2 linked regions of the Homo sapiens genome follow. The protein of the gene in region 1 purifies or fractionates together with the protein of each later gene. This does not show direct contact. Each region holds a gene or a part of one and is shown in the gene's direction. Other genes may lie near its edges.

What was found.
Region 2: the proteins of RAB32 (region 1) and CHML purify together in Homo sapiens (affinity purification with mass spectrometry; 4 studies listed by BioGRID and IntAct, with this or other methods). This does not show direct contact.

Annotation. Positions count from the first base shown.
Region 1 is NC_000006.12:146,546,833-146,550,332, forward strand, and holds part of RAB32 (ras-related protein Rab-32), read left to right. Parts: intron 1-2,631; coding exon 2,632-2,909; intron 2,910-3,500. UniProt on the Homo sapiens protein: The small GTPases Rab are key regulators of intracellular membrane trafficking, from the formation of transport vesicles to their fusion with membranes.
Region 2 is NC_000001.11:241,633,870-241,637,369, reverse strand, and holds part of CHML (rab proteins geranylgeranyltransferase component A 2), read left to right. Parts: intron 1-1,175; exon of another isoform or gene 1,176-1,296; coding exon of another isoform or gene 1,297-1,337; 5' UTR 1,338-1,572; coding exon of another isoform or gene 1,573-1,603; coding exon 1,604-3,500. UniProt on the Homo sapiens protein: Substrate-binding subunit (component A) of the Rab geranylgeranyltransferase (GGTase) complex. Binds unprenylated Rab proteins and presents the substrate peptide to the catalytic component B.

The DNA of each region.
Region 1 (3,500 bases):
GAAGAAATTATGACGAATCTCTATGCTTGAAAGCTGTGGCAAGTATGATAGGCTAGAATTATCAAATGTTTTCTACACATGTAGCTAAGCAGATTCAGCTGAACTCTTCAGGTTAAGAACCACTGTGATCCTCAGATACACAAATCTGTTCTTACGGCATTGAAGGAATCTGGCTTTAAAATACAGATGCAGTTTAGTGCAGTTTTTGTGTTAGACAATTGCCATCTCTTAACTCACACGTACTTTAGGACTGCTGCTCAAAACATAACTGAAATATACTAAAATCTTGAAGTCTTTGATAACACTTTACAGAGATCTTAATAAATGCATACTCAAGATATAGCAAGAGATGTCTCTGATCTTCCTTTTAATGCTCAGTGTAGGTAAAGTAGTATTTGGTTTACTATTATATGCTTATTGCTTATTAGTCACTATAGCATTTTTCAGGCAAATTGAAAGACTGGTCTAGGTTAAATCTTAAAAAAACAAGTTTGTCCATTTAGGTCTAGTATACTTTAGCCTTCATGTATTGACTGAGTGATTTGCTTTTTAGGATCAACATTTTTTAATAAAAATCTGAATGAGTAACTCTCCTTTGGGCCAAAGGACAAATTGGGAACAGTCTGCTCTGAAGTTCATATAAATAATATTTACCCAAGCATAAAATGTGTGCTTGGAAGATATAAACTATATAATTTATGCCTAAACTTATTTTACATTGTTTTGATTCCCATCCAAAATAGAATGTGGATCCTGATTGCCTTGCTGCATCTTATACTTTGTCGATTAGTATACCTAGTAATATCCCTTTGTCTTTTTTTTCACAACTCTCCTATCATCTTTCATGAGCACGAGTAAAAGGAAATACTTGAAATTTACAGATGATTCACAAAAAAAAAAAAAAAAAAGCAACAGTCACTAAAGTTTAACAACTCTTTGTTAACTTCTAGGTTTCTAACTGTTCTTTTACTCATTTGTCACCCCACTCTCTTTTCTAAATTAAAGATATAGTCCAAAGGAATAGTTTATTACCATGTAATTATCTTGAAATCTTACTTTTTCAATTTCCTAATTTAAGACTGTCATATCTTGTTGCTTAGTCTTTTCATATTCAATAATTAAAATATATAAAAATGGAAGTGGTTGGTAATGTGTGCACTGCATTTGAAATTGGAGTCTGAATCATTTCAATGCATATAGTCTTTCTGCAGAATAGCGATTTTGAACAGTTGGCATATCATGTAAGTTTTTATAAATGTCAGCATTATGAGCCAATGAACTATATAATGGTCAGATTTACATCACAATAAAATATGAGCATAATAGTAGGGTTTCATATGTGACCATTTGTTACAGTAAAATTTAGACCTTTGGACTATTACAGTACAGCTTCAGTTAAACCATATGAGGAGTCATCACAAAACAAACCTTAAATTTATGCATTCACGTTTGACCATTGTTTTATTCTTCTTCCATTATTCCCTAAAACAATATATAAAATTATATTGCATTGTAGAGTTTGGAGAAGGAAGAATTTTATATTTTGGGGTATCTTTGCATCTGTGCAGAGAAAATGTGTCAATAAAATGTAGATAAAGCCTGTTGCTCATGTGTTTCAAGAAGAAAGTGTCTTTATCATAGAACAGAGTGATACATCTTAGATGTGCATTGATTGCCAATCATTTTTCCTTCACACTGTAGTCAGTAACTAAGTCAAGGCAACTGCAAGATAGTTCAGAAAGGCTAGCATCCCACTTCTATAGGTGTGTGGGAGTCAGAAGACCTGGATTCTAGTCCTGTCTTCTTTAGTCAGTGCCACTATAATCCTGGCCAAGCATCCATTTTCCTGTTGTTACATCTGTCAGATGAAAAGAAGGGTCTTTCCTATGCCAAAGATTAGTACAATAGCAGATAGTAAGAGAACGCTTTGCAAAGTCCTATATAATGTACAAAGCAGATTTTTCCCAAAGTGTTTGACATAAATTATTTTAAAAGTACAATGACATTTGAAGAACCCTGGAATTGATTCTTCTTGTAACAACACAACCAGTTGTGCCTTTTGTTCTGAAACAGATTTTCATGTATCTACTACTTACAGGGGTGAAATCTTGCATATTGAGTCAGAAGTGGGTATGGGCTAGAGATATGAAGGAGAGATGAGTTGAGAACATGAACTACTTTATCTCATGTCCAGCCCTAATCTATTTGACTAGCATGTTACCCACTGCACTTATCTCCTTCCTGCAGGCTTCATTTCTTCTATTCTTGTCTCTTCTTCCTCTACTTCCAGCTTTATGTTTTCCTTTAGTGCCTCTCTTCTCTTAGACTAAGGGGAGACGAGTCGGAATAAATGACAGACTTTGTAGCTTTAAATATTGTCATATTGGTTTTTATGGAGAATATGTTGTACAGAACATAAAACTAATTCATTATGTACTTAAACCAAATTATCAGACACATCTGCTCTATGGGTCATGGTCTGTATGGATAGCCTTAATCACACCAGGTTATATTGCTGTGGAATGGAAGACATTTGTTCATAGTGTTGCTCTTGGGGTAAAAGGGGTTATACCTAAATGTAGACTCTGTCTGAATTACAAGTTTTTAATTTTTTCTTATATTTATGTCTAGGGCAGGAGCGATTTGGCAACATGACCCGAGTATACTACAAGGAAGCTGTTGGTGCTTTTGTAGTCTTTGATATATCAAGAAGTTCCACATTTGAGGCAGTCTTAAAATGGAAAAGTGATCTGGATAGTAAAGTTCATCTTCCAAATGGCAGCCCTATCCCTGCTGTCCTCTTGGCTAACAAATGTGACCAGAACAAGGACAGTAGCCAGAGTCCTTCCCAGGTGGACCAATTCTGCAAAGAACATGGCTTTGCCGGATGGTTTGAAACCTCTGCAAAGGTGAGATCTGCTTTGCTTATGCATCTTTTGCTTTCTAGCTCATAATTCTGAGCTGTAAATGTAAAGTATTTAGATATATTTATGTGAGTGGTGTTTGAAAGTCTGGAAAATGAGAAGTGTAGCATGGATGTGTTATAGCTTCTTTCAGTCCACAACAGGACTGCTTTCCAAATTGGCTAATGGCTAATAGAAGGGCAGATTTTCCATCAAAACAAAAAGAATTATTTAGGGCAAAAAGCAAATGACATTTTCTGTGAGTTTGAGTTTTTAACTGAGGTACTTCTCATGCAACTAGAGTGGTTGGGGGTATTGTCAAGCACGAGAATTTTTGGTTTTTACAAAAGGCTAAGTGAATAGGAAGATGCCTCTGGTGAAGATGTGTGTCACATGCAGGACCATGTGAAAAGATCAGAGAGGAGATTTATTCAGATGATGTTTGAAGAGTTTTAGGTTAACTGTGTACGAAAGATTTGAAACAGCCAGAAAGTATCAACATTTGTGGTATGCTTCATAAACAGTAGAGTGAGAATTTTTTCTTTTGTCTATTATGGAAAGCTGAATAAAATATTTTCTGAAGGAAAAAATAAAACA
Region 2 (3,500 bases), on another chromosome or scaffold:
ATATTTTTGAGACAGAGGCTTTGACTAGACAGGACTGTTAGGATTGCCATTTTAGTTAAACTAAAGGTGTGTGCCCTATGCAATTTAATCTAAGTTCCAATTGAATGGCTTGTTTTTCCAGTATCCAGGATTATTAGTCATCTTGGGCTAGACAGGTACAGCTTGTACTGATTTATATTTCAGTAGGTTTAACAGTAGTGAAAACCAGAGCTCAAAACTGTGCAATGATGAATATTAGAAAGTTTAGCAGTATTGTTGCTTTAGCCTAAAGACTTTCAGGTGAGTATGCTCTTCAGCACCTTGGCCTTTCTACCTCTGGCCACACAGGGCATCACACAGATGTCTTCCGCACATGGAATGTAACCAGCATTATGCTCAAAGTTAACAGGAGAACCTTATTATTTTTTTTTTTTTAAACTTCCCCTTCAAAAATAAGAACAAACAGTGTTAGTCTTGGCAGAGGATGTTTAGATAGACCTTTTGCTTGGGATGCAGAGATTCAGGGTTGCAGAGACAGTGGCGAAATGCAAACATCACTGTATTCAAATGTTAGAAGTAGGTATTATTTATGTTAAGATATTTTAATATGAAATCAGAAGTTTTCCTTTTTTACTTACACTTACACACTTTTTTCCTTTATTACTTATATGCATGTGTACATTCATATAATATTTTTAATACATTTTCCTCCTCAGGGCTATTATGAGCCTAAATATTTTTAAATGGCCAGTTGTTTTACTGAATTAATCCTTTTGTAATAATCTGACTAGTAATTGAGTAGAAATAGTCTCATGTTGCTACCATGAGATCCTAAGGGTGGTTGTGGCATGGAAAGGTCTTATATTCAGCTGTTCTGGAATCACACATAGACTGTAATGGCCACAGAAATATTTTGAATCATGGCAGTATGCACATAGTTTATAATCTGTTTCTATAAACAGTGGAGCCATGCGTTCCTTTTAGTCTAAGCTCACAGCTGTGTATAGATTTATTCACATGATAGTTTTCTTAAAAGCTAAAGTTAGAGAATTGTATTATGTTATTTCTTCTTTATTTTTGTGGAACATTATGTTCATTCTCTATTACTATGTTGCCTGATTCTTGGGAGGGCTGTTATATCTCTATTGTCCATTCTCAAGAAATTAGAAAATATGTGAGAAAGCATTTAAGACATGCTTTAGTAGAGGTTTATGTCCAAATAAGATGTCACACTCCAATGGATTGTCATTGTTGCATGAAATTATTTTTCTCTTATATTGTTTACAATGTATTCTTTCTTGAATTTTCTTCTTTCAGAGAAGAGTTCCAGTCACAAATGCATATATGATGCATTTTGACATTTACTGCTAAGATGAAATGCAGAAATGAAACCACACATCCATTTTAGTATTCTCAGATGTGATTAGATGTACTTGCTCATGTTTTTATGCTACTGACTTATAAGAAAAAAAATATTTTAAAAGGGTAACCGTTAAACAGCTAGGACCTGCAACTTCAGTGCTTCTGGGATAACTGGAACATCAGAAGGACAGATTTTATTACAGCATAATCACACCTCATTTCTTTCATCAGCAGTTGTCACCAGACGCTGTTACTTCCTAAAATGGCGGACAATCTTCCCACAGAGTTTGATGTGGTTATAATAGGGACAGGTTTGCCCGAATCCATCCTTGCAGCTGCATGTTCAAGAAGTGGTCAGAGGGTTCTGCATATTGATTCAAGAAGCTACTATGGAGGAAACTGGGCTAGTTTCAGCTTTTCAGGATTGCTATCCTGGTTGAAGGAGTATCAGCAAAACAATGACATTGGGGAAGAAAGTACTGTTGTATGGCAGGACCTGATCCATGAAACAGAAGAAGCCATCACTCTTCGCAAGAAGGATGAAACTATTCAACACACAGAAGCTTTTTGCTACGCCAGTCAGGATATGGAGGACAACGTTGAAGAGATTGGTGCTCTGCAGAAAAATCCTTCTTTGGGGGTGTCTAATACCTTCACTGAAGTTCTGGATTCTGCATTACCTGAAGAAAGCCAGTTATCGTATTTTAATAGCGACGAAATGCCTGCAAAACACACTCAGAAAAGTGATACAGAGATTTCACTAGAAGTAACTGATGTAGAGGAATCAGTGGAGAAGGAAAAGTATTGTGGAGATAAAACTTGTATGCACACAGTTTCAGATAAAGATGGAGATAAAGATGAAAGCAAATCTACAGTAGAAGATAAGGCCGATGAACCAATTAGAAATAGGATTACTTACTCTCAAATAGTTAAAGAAGGCAGGAGGTTTAATATTGATTTGGTGTCAAAACTGCTGTATTCTCAAGGATTGCTAATTGATCTTTTAATCAAATCAGATGTTAGTCGTTATGTAGAATTTAAAAATGTCACTAGGATTCTTGCATTTCGGGAAGGAAAGGTAGAACAAGTTCCTTGTTCCAGAGCAGATGTCTTTAATAGCAAGGAACTCACCATGGTTGAAAAGAGGATGCTAATGAAATTTCTCACATTTTGTTTAGAGTATGAACAACATCCTGATGAATACCAAGCTTTCAGGCAGTGTTCATTTTCAGAATACTTAAAAACTAAAAAACTAACTCCCAACCTTCAACATTTTGTACTGCACTCAATTGCAATGACATCAGAATCATCTTGCACTACAATAGATGGTCTTAACGCAACTAAAAACTTCCTTCAGTGTCTCGGACGGTTTGGCAACACCCCCTTTTTATTTCCCTTGTATGGCCAAGGAGAAATTCCCCAGGGTTTCTGTAGGATGTGTGCAGTTTTTGGTGGAATCTATTGTCTTCGTCATAAAGTACAATGCTTTGTAGTCGACAAAGAATCTGGACGATGTAAAGCAATTATAGATCACTTTGGTCAAAGAATAAATGCTAAATATTTTATTGTGGAAGACAGTTACCTTTCTGAGGAAACATGCTCAAATGTGCAGTATAAGCAGATCTCTAGGGCAGTACTCATTACAGATCAGTCTATACTAAAGACAGATTTAGATCAGCAGACTTCCATTCTGATAGTTCCTCCAGCAGAGCCAGGAGCTTGTGCTGTACGGGTCACAGAATTATGTTCTTCAACCATGACATGCATGAAGGACACCTATCTGGTACATTTGACATGTTCATCTTCTAAAACAGCAAGAGAAGACTTAGAATCAGTGGTGAAGAAATTATTCACTCCGTATACTGAAACAGAAATAAACGAGGAAGAACTTACAAAGCCAAGACTCTTGTGGGCTCTTTATTTTAATATGAGAGATTCCTCGGGAATCAGCAGAAGCTCGTATAATGGCTTGCCTTCCAATGTTTATGTCTGCTCTGGGCCTGACTGTGGCCTGGGAAATGAGCATGCTGTCAAGCAAGCTGAAACACTTTTCCAGGAGATCTTTCCAACTGAAGAATTCTGCCCTCCACCTCCAAATCCAGAAGACATTATCTTTGATGGTGATGATAAGCAGCCAGAGGCTCCTGGAACCAATAATG